Regions from separate parts of the Homo sapiens genome. Here region 2 is reported to be linked to region 1. Evidence: microRNA targets listed by miRTarBase, many of them from high-throughput screens and not tested one by one. Region 1 holds a microRNA gene; the other region holds the end of a gene's coding sequence.
What was found. The annotated mature microRNA hsa-miR-3121-3p reads UAAAUAGAGUAGGCAAAGGACA and lies in region 1 at 2,293-2,314, opposite strand. An mRNA with a match to its seed (bases 2 to 7 or 8) in the 3' UTR can be bound and repressed. Matches are read on the target gene's strand: a 7mer-m8 pairs with bases 2 to 8, a 7mer-A1 pairs with bases 2 to 7 and ends in A, and an 8mer does both.

Region 1 (5,075 bases):
GGAATGCAAGTATTGCTAAATATGTTAGACCTCCAGGTTAAAGATGATTCAGCTTTAAGATGTTACCCTTTCAGAGGTACAGAAGAAAACCATTTCCAAAAAAGGTCCTTTCAGTGGTAGACTTGGGGGTAACTTGGTGGCCCCTTTGAGATATCAGGTTTCTTTTTTATCTAGAAATGGCTGCAAGTGGAAGCTGATAATATGTAGGCACTTTGTAAATTCATATTGAGTAAATGAAAGAAATTGTGATTTCCTGAGAATTGAACCTTGTTTATCTAACCCTAATTGATGAGAAGCTCACTACTTGATGGTGTGTACAAACTCACCTGAATGGGATTTTTTTTAGACATATCTTCATGACCTGTTCCCACCCCAGTTCATCGTCACCTCTTTTACACCAAAACGTCTGCAGAGTGGTGTGGTCACGATTCTTTTGTGCCATTTTGGGGTGGAGAGGGTGGACGTGATAAAGCCAATAATTCAGGACTTATTCCTTCTTGCGTTGTGTTTTTTTGCCCTTGCACCAGAGTATGAAATAGCTTCCAGGAGCTCCACCTATAAGCTTAGAAGTGTCTGTATGATTGTAATCACATGGTGACAACACTCAGAATCTAAATTGGACTTCTGTTGTATTCTCACCACTCAATTTGTTTTTTAGCAGTTTAATGGGTACATTTTAGAGTCTTCCATTTTGTGTGGAATTAGATCCTCCCCTTCAAATGCTGTAATTAACATCACTTTAAAAAAACCTGAATAAAATATTGAAACCTCAAAAAACAAAAACAAAAACAAAACTACCTCAAAATAATAAAGGCCATATATGAAAAGGCCACAGTTAACAACATACTCAGTGGTGAAAAACTGAAAGCTTTCCTTCTAAGATCAGGAACAAGGCAAGGATATCTATTCTCATCACTTCTATTCAAGATGGTATCCAGGCCAATGTTAATGCTATCATATCTCCTTAAAGGATATAAAATCAAGCTATAACCCCATCAGCTTGGGTACATGTTCTCAAGACCTTCTGAGGCTGTGTCATGGGTCATGGTCTTCACATTTGGTGCAGAATAAATCTCTTCAAATACTTTGCAGTTTGGCTTTTTTCCCTCGACATCTTCATCTGTATCCTTTGTAACATCCTTTATAATAAACTGGCAAATGTGTTTCCCTGAGTTCTGTAAGCCACTCCAGAACTCAGTTGAACCCAAAGAGGGGGTCATGGGAACCACAACTTGAAGCCAGTTGGTAAGAAATTCTGGAGACCGGGGCTTGTGACTGGTCAAGGGGTGGGAGGCAGTCCTGGGGACTGAGTCCTCAACCTGTGGAATCTGACACTATCTCTAGGCACCTAGTGTCAGAACTGATTAGGAGGATACCCAGTTGGTGTCTGCTGCAGAACTGCTCACATAATGTTGGGGAGAAATCCCCACGTATTTGGTCACAGAAGTCTTCTGTTGTTGTAGTGGTATGAGAGCAGAGGAAAAACACAGTTTGAAAGTTTTTCCTAAAATGGCATCCAAATTGGAAAGGAAGAGGTAAAGTTATCTGTTCACAGACAACAAGATTTTATATGTAAAAAAATCCTAAAGATTCCACCCAATCTGTTATTCAGCAAAGTTGCAGGATACAAAATCGTCACACAAAAATCAGGTTAGGTCTGACAGAGACAGACAATAAATGAATAAGTTTTCCAATATTAAAACCTAAGGAGTATTATGAAGAAAAAAAACAGGTCCAGGAACAAGGTTATAATTTGGAATAAGATGGTTAGGGAAAGCCTTCTAGAGAAGGCCCTTTGAATAAAGACAAAGGAAGTGAAGAAGTGAGTCTTGCAGGTATCTGGAGTAGATTGTTCCAGCCATAGGAAAAAGCCAGTGCAAAGGCCCTATGATGAGGGTATGCACAGAATGTTAGAGTAGGGGTCCCCAACCCCTGGGCTGCAGGCCAGTAGCAATACATGGCCTGTCAGGAACCTGGCCGCACAGCAGGAGATGAGTGGCGGTTGAGCAAGCATTACCACCTGAGCTCCACCTCCTGTGAGATCAGCAATAGCATTAGAGTCTCACAGGACTGTGAAGACTATTGTGAACTGCACATGTGAGGGGTCTAGGTTACGCACTCCTTATGAGAATCTAATGCCTGATGATCTGAAGTCAAATGGTTTAATCCTGAAACCATCCCCCTCCAACACTGGCCCCCTAATCCCTGCTGCAGAAAAATGGTCTTCCACTAAACCAGTCCCTGGTGCCAAAAAGGGTGGGGACTGCTGTGTTAGAGAACTTAAAATGTTTCTGTCCTTTGCCTACTCTATTTAAGGTACAGGGTGTCTTAAATAGAATAGGCAAAGGACATAACCATTTAAGAAGCAATAAGACAAGGTTGTTCATGAGACAATCATAGCTTCTATTGGCGCCATTCATTGACTCTCTTAAAGTGAAATAGACAATTGGGAAGAGATAGCTATGGTCCACTTGGTAATTATTTGCTGTGAAATAAAGACTACTAATTAAGAGTTACGTGGTAGTTCAAAAAAAATAAGTATAGTTCTTTTTTCTTTTTTATTTAGACTTCTTTTTAAAGCAAGTTTAGGTTTACAGAAAAATGAACAAAAAATAGGGTTATCTCATACCTCTCACATGTATACAACTCTCCCACCCACTGCCCCCATTACTAACATCTTGCATTGAGTGGCACATTTGTTACAGCTGATGAGCCTATATTAATACACTATTATTAATGAAAGTCCATAGTTTACATTAGGGTTCACTCTTGTATTGAACATTCTATGGGTTTGACAAACATATAATGACATGTACCCACCACTGCGGTACCATTCAGAATAGTTTCACTGCCCTAAAAATCCCGTACTCTACCTATTCACCCTTCCCTCCCTCCCCACTCTCCTCCATACTCTGAACCCACGGCAACTAGTGATCTTTTCACTGCTTTGTTTTACTCTTTCCAGAATGTCAAATGATTAGACTCATACAGTATGCAGCCTTTTCAGATTGGCTTCTTTCACTTAGCATTATGCATTTAAGGTTCCTCCATGTCTTTTCATGGTCTAATAGCTCATTTCTTTTTAAAAATTTTAAATTATTGTAAACATAAAATTTACCATTTTAACCATTTTTGGTATTTAACTCAGTAGTGTTAACTATATGCTCCTTCCCCTGGCCCAAAACACAAGATTTTTCTTGACTCTTTACCGTAAATGGGATTCTGGGAGATAAAACCTACCAAAGTGGAAGGCCCTACTAAGACTGGGGAGGGGCCGGGTGTGGGGGCTCACGCCTGTAATCCCAGCACTGGGGGAGGCCGAGGCGGGTGGATCACAAGGTCAGGAGATCGAGACCATCCTGGCTAACATGGTGAAACCCCGTCTCTACTAAAAATAAAACAACAACAAAATTAGCTGGGCATGGTGGTGGGCGCCTGTAGTCCCAGTTACTCAGGAGGCTGAGGCAGGAGAATGGTGGAACTCAGGAGGCAGAACTTGCAGTGAGCCAAGATTGCGCTACTGCACTCCAGCCTGGGCGACACAGCGAGACTCCGTCTCAAAAAAAAAAAAAATACTGGGGAGGAGTTTTTGACTCCCTAGTCCACACTCAGCCTCAAGCAATTCATCCATTACCATTGAAGTGTTTCTACCAGTTTATGGCCCAAGCATCTTCTGTTATCTTGGTTATGATTCTCTGTATTCACCTGTCTCTCCAGTTTTGGGGATGGCAGTTTGAACTGGTACCTCAATCTCTGATGGATCTAGAACAGTCTTTGATTTTCAGTTTGGTCAGATTACTGTTATTGTTAAGGAGAGGAGTGATAACTTGCAGGTTCTTCACATGTTGAGGCTGAAACTGGAAGTTCAGTGATCTTTTAAAGAGATTTTAAAATTTAAAAAAAGTCTTTAAATTTACCCATATATTTAGCACTTCCAGGACTCTTCATTCCTTTATGGAGGTCCAAATTTCCATCTTATATAATTTTCCTTTCATGTGAAGTTCCTTTAAAATTTACTATAGTTCAGTTCAGTTGGCAATGAATTACCTGCTTTTGTTTATTTGGAAAAAGTTTTTATTTATTTATTTTTATTTTTTAGATGAAGTCTCACTCTGTGGCCCAGGCTGGAGTGCAGTGGTGCAATCTCAGCTCACTACAACCTCTGCCTCCTGGGTTCAAGTGATTCTCCTGCTTCAGTCTCCAGAGTAGCTGGGATTACAGATGCCCACCATGACACCCGACTAATTTTTGCATTTTTAGTAGAGATGGGGTTGCAATGTGTTGTTCAGCCTGGTCTCGAACTCCTGACCTCAAGTGATCTGCCCATCTCAGCCTCCCAAAGTATTGGGATTACAGGCATGAGCCACCAGATCCAGCCTTGAAAAGTCTTTATTTCACGTTTACTTCTTTTTGTATTGACATGAGATTCACATAAAATTAACCAGTTTAACATGTACAATTGAATGACATTTAATACATTCACAATATTGTGCAACCAACTGCATCTAGTTCCACAACATATTTGTTATTCCCCCCAAAAAGCCTTGAACCCACTAAGCAGTCACTCCCCATTCCCCTCTCCCCCAAACCTTTAGCCTTGAACCCACCAAGCAGTCACTCCCCATTCCCCTCTCCCCCAAACCTTTAGCCTTGAACCCACTAAGCAGTCACTCCCCATTCCCCTCTCCCCCAAAACCTTGGCAACACCAATCTGCTTTCTGTCTCTATGGATTTAACCATTCTGGATATTTCATATAAATTGAATCATACACTATGTAATCTTTCATGTCTGGCCTCTCACTTGGTTTAATGTTTTCAAGGCTCATCTATATTATAGCATGTATCGGTTCTTCATTCCTTTTTATGATTAATAGTCTATTATATGTATACAACAATGCCAAATTTTGCTTATCCACTCATCAGTTAATGGACATTTGGGTTGTTTGCACTTTTGGCTATTGTGAATACTGCTGCTATGATCATTTGTATACAGGTATTTGAGTACCAAATTACCCAGCAATTCCACTCCTGTATATACCCAAAAGAATTGGTAATTCTATTTTTAACTTTTTGAG
Region 2 (5,075 bases), not on the chromosome of region 1:
TTTTCAAATGTAAGTTTACAATTTAAAAGAATAGCATCCTACACTGACTATTGGAGAGAGTATGGTATATAATTTGTTAAATGATTATAAAATTGTTTACTTTTGTTGACACCTTTAAGAAGAAAAAGAAAAATGAAAATTATGAAACTTATAACCTCTCTCAGCAGACTTTTGCACTTTATGGAATTGTCACCATCATCACTTTTTTCCATCCTCTTCAACTTAAGTTTTGCTTAATTTTGTCTCTTAACTAACTCATATCCCCAACCACTTAATGTTTACAATGCATGTTGGAATTGAATGCCTTACTGTACAGCTTACTAGATATAGGTAAATATGTATAGTATGGCACTGTAGATTGGGAGAATGGAATATGATTATAGATTTAAATGGCAATAAAATAATAGAACTAGACCCTGGTTGGGGAAATGAGACAGCGCTCCTCCTGCCCCGGGCTCTTTGCTGCACAACAATGGCAGTATTTATGGAGCACACACTGTATGTCAGATAACTCATTTTAAACATCAACCTGTTACATACCTACTGTAATCACTTCCGTTTTACAGAGGTGGGTCCTGAGGCCCAGAGATGTTCTATGTGTGTGTAAGTTCTCACTGGCAGAGCTGGGACTCAAATGCAAACAGTGTGACTCCAGGGCGCACACTCCTAACCCCAACATTGTAAGGTCCTTGGGTTGCCATCTAAAAACTGGGACTTTCCTGGAGCCACAGTGGGGGACAAGTGGTCCTATATTAGCTGCTTGAAGCAGATGGCAGCTGGTTGAGAGTTAGGTACACAGCTGGACTGGCACTTAGCCGGACTGGCTCACTTTCCCCCCATGTTAGACATCAGCAAGTTTCCAGTTACTCCCTTATAAGAAGCCACAGTTTGTCCTGGCATAGTGTAAATTACTTTCTGAGATCTGACAAACCACTCCCCCTTTCACCCCTTTTCTGTCCCCACCTAGGCACCAGCCTCTCTCCCAACTGCCCCATGGTTTGGAATTCTTAAGCCAGATATTCTCAAGGCTTTGCTAAACAAGCCCAGGAGTGGTTTGGGGCTTCAGAAGTAGCCTTTGTCTTGTCTCCATGCTCCAAAGGGCTGAAGAACTTCCAAATGGAAAATCACCTCTTTCTTCCCTACAGTCACTGTCAAAGCATACCTTCATTTTCATAGAATCAACATAACCTTAAGCTCTAACCTCTCACACTGAAGCTGAGGAAACAGGCCCAGAGATCTCCCGAAAGGATCTCTTCCTGTATACCCGTGCTGTCCAGTATGGTAGCCTTGAGCCACGTGTGGCTATTTAAAATTAATTAGAAACCTAATTCCCCAGAAAATTAGCCACATGTCAGTTGTTTAATAGCCACATATGGCTTATGGTTACCATCCTGGACAGTGTAAATAGAGAACTTCCCATCTTCCCAGTAAGTCCTACCGGACAGTACAGAGCTGTGGGTGTGTCTGCTTTCCCTTCCTGATTTCCATGGCCCTGGCCAGAGTCCCTACCAACCTCTGGGTTTCCTGTGCAGTTATCAGTCCAGCCAACTCACCTGCAGAGTGTAAAGGGTCTGGTGTACCTACATTTCACAAAGCATCAGGAATTTGAAGCATTTCTAGGAATCTAGGAATATCTAGAAATCCTAAATGGAAATACAACCACACACATACACATATCAGGCATGTATGGTAATGGTTCAGGCTGGGCTGCTTTATGGCTTCCTCTGCCATAACAGATGCAGGGAATGGCCTCCCTGCCTCCTGGGGTGGGGTAAGGTGCTAAGCGGACCAGGGCTTTGACATTAGGAAGATTTGAGTTTGAATCCTGGCTTTGTGACCTTGATCTCATAACTTAAACTGTTAGCTTCAGAATTCTCTTGTTTAAAATGGGGATAGTGATAGGAACACCTCCAGTTTTTGTTAAGGGCAAAATGATAATCTCATCAGCACACTACAAGCACCCAATATCCACGGATGTGGTTCCCTTTTCCTAGATTCCCTGCTGAACTCCAAATTGGCAGAGAGGAATATTGCCTAAGTAATGGTCTCAGTACCTCAGCAGTACTGGAAGGAATTGCCAATTAGAGGGAAGCTATTAGCCAGCTATCCACTTCATGTGACCCATGGCAGGATTAATAAGCCAGTAAAGCAGGGTTGCTCTTCCTGTGAATTCCTTAACACTTTTCATGAGGTTTACTGCCTGCTGGACAATGTATGTATTATAATCTATTCCTAAAACTTGAGGAATAGTTCAATAATTAGCAGTTAACCACTTTGGATCCACACAAGCTCAGCACTCGGTAATTTACTGTTTCTACAACCATAGGAGAAAGAGTAGGAAGTAAGTCATTAAGGCAGTGATTACCAGCCTGGGCTCTGTGACACCCCTGTGTGTGTTGAGGGATCTCAAGAGGGGTTACAAAATCTCAAATCAAAATGTAATTTGAATTCACTTTAATATTTTTTAAGGTAGCATATGGCACTTTGGGGACAGGAAGAAAAAGTCACAAAGTCCACAAACCCATGAAGGTGTCAGCTCACAAGGCTGGAAATGACTGCATTATCGATTCTGCTGTCACAGTAAATGTTCCATAACAAAGGCATGTTGAATTTGGTCTCATTCATTAGAGTATAGGACTTTTGTTTGGTCACATCTTTATCATTTAAGAAACATTTAAAAATGGTATTCATTTTTATTTCAACATGTCAACTGTGCATTTCCAAAACAGCAGGCTTTTCAAAGGAATAAATCAGAACTGTAAACACAAGATACAGTACAAGTTTTTGACTTCCTACAGTCAGTTTCACAAATCCACATACTGTACATTCATAGGTGAGGTTAAGCCTGTCACCCATTTCTTTATTTCTATAATTACACAAGCATAATAAATACATCTGATTTTAAAGGTCACTTAAAATGAGTCATAATTTACAGTACAGTACGTTTCAGTTCAAGTGCAAAAAATAACTATTTGCTGAATTCTATTTCTTTCAGTTATTTTATTTTTAAGCTGTGTTTTATTGTGAAGCGAGACATCCAAGTGTAGAATTTCTTATCCCAAATGCAGTATTGGGCAGAACTATGGTGTCATGGAGAAGCCCTCACTTTACAATTGATCCTGTCTAATCAGGGTCAGAGGGTAAGGTGAGTTGCTCATTTCGACTGTTCTTTTCTTTCCTCTCTCTCCTGTGCTCATCCACAGCTATTATAAATTATATAATTCACCTTTATTCAGCTAAAACAGTTTTCCCTTTTCCACACTCCCCCCAGGTTTCCTGTTAACCTCTGCTTTGATTTTTAGTGGCAAGCTTTACGTGCGATCCACCCAGCCATTGTTCTGGCTGCAGTTGTAACGTTTGCAGTTGCATACATTACATTGTCCAGTGTCTGACTGTGTCTTCATGAGAACGAATATACTGAGATTTTCTTTCTTTAGTCATTGGAAAGTATAGTTGCTACTTATTGCCATCCTTCCCATTCATGGTTTCCTATTTACCACCTTTTCCTCACCAAAAACAAAACAAAACTGACCCAATATGTAATTTCTAAAAATTGTATCCTTCCCCCAGGCACTTAAATCTTATACTGTGATTTGTAACTAGTACTGCTTATTTAAGGAACTCTTAGGAATTCAGTGATTTTTGTGTGTTTCATTCCCTCAGCTAATTAGAGCCTGAATTACTATAAGATAGTAAATAGCGAGAGAGGCTATTTACAGTATCAATATATTTAGTAAACTCTTGTCTATCAAAACACAGGATACTGAGTTGGTTGGTTGATTTGAAATAATCGCTTGTTTCTGTTTTTTTTCTCAAAGCCCATTTAAAACAAAAGGCATTTTTAAGCTCGGCTTAGCTTGCAGTAGTTAATAATAGCTTCTGTTGCTCAAAGAATTATTTCCATTATATGCCATACACATATAAAAATATATTTGCTAAAGATATGTAAAGTTTCTGATGAAACTTTTAACTTCATTTTTTAACTTTAACTTTTAACTTTATTTTTAACAAAAGCACATGTGCTACTTTTATCTGGTTACTTTTTAAATATATCTTGTAATTTTTTAAACGGTTCTCTCCAAGAAAAAAGAAAGTATAGATGAATTCTATCTCTTCCCAGTTTGTGTTAGGAACCAAATAAGAATAAATAATCAGAAGAGGGAAATTATATCCACATTCACCTCGAAACACTTTCATTCCCTCCACTTACTTAGTGTAACTGCCGGTTTCAACTCTTACTGCACTGGCAGAGAAATTCTATCATCCTTAACCTAACCAAGCAAAGAACTGAAAGTCCTCATTGAACTCCATTTCCCTGTTGTAATTCCAATGAGATTACGAAAGTTTACCTTTTCCTGCCAATATGTACTGTAGCTCCTGTGTGTGTGTTTCCATGTTAATGAGTTTAGATATTTAGAAGCATATGCAGTGCTGTGCTCCTCCAGGGGAGGCATATCCTGGCTGGGGGGCCTCACCCTGTGTCCTGGCTGAGGAGCCTGATTCCATGCAGGGTGTGAGATGAGCAGGATGCCCTCAGTGTCCTCCCGCGGCCAGCTGAGCCTGCTGCTCTTCACTCTCCTCTGTGCACGGGTCCACACTGGGGTGAGCGGGGCTGGTCTGCGTCTGAGATGCTGCTGCGTCAGGGGATGGCTGGTTTCTAGATGGGTCAGAGTGAGTCTCACATGGGACAGGCTGGGCTCTACCAGCAGGAGAATTTTCCCTATTCTCATTGGTCCCCTGGAGGTAAAAAACAGGAGATGCCCCATGATCAGTGATAGCAAATAAATCCAACTTTTTATATATGCTTTCAAGTAAGACAGGAAACATGGGGAGATCATCCGGAAGTGCCCATTTCAGGGACCAAGTAATAGAGGAATAAGGATAGAATGTCTTACCTTTCATCTCCTTTCCTATGTGCAACTGCCAGAGCCGCATGAAAAACACAAACACTATAAGCAGACGTGTCTTGTGGAAAAAGGAACATTACTACCAAAATGTCTGTTAGTACTTGGTAAACAGTTTACATCAGCAAATATTTACTGAGCCCCCCAAGCCATGTGGCAAGTCGCTGGGCA

Region 2: miRTarBase lists MFSD6 as a target of hsa-miR-3121-3p. Seed matches in the 3' UTR shown: 7mer-A1 at 3,694-3,700.

What each region holds. Positions count from the first base shown.
Region 1 is chr1:180,436,031-180,441,105 of GRCh38, forward strand. MIR3121 (microRNA 3121) reads right to left here and starts at 2,360; the gene lies at 2,284-2,360. The region is part of intron 3 of ACBD6 (acyl-CoA binding domain containing 6); the gene reads right to left. It also overlaps the pseudogene VDAC1P4.
Region 2 is chr2:190,499,677-190,504,751 of GRCh38, reverse strand. It overlaps MFSD6 (major facilitator superfamily domain containing 6), which reads right to left. Exons shown (of 8, transcript NM_017694.4): 8 at 2,438-4,737. The coding sequence ends at 4,534. It overlaps NEMP2 (nuclear envelope integral membrane protein 2), which reads left to right. Exons shown (of 9, transcript NM_001142645.2): 9 at 1-414. Among named protein-coding and RNA genes, the nearest start is that of NEMP2, 33 kb to the left of the region's middle.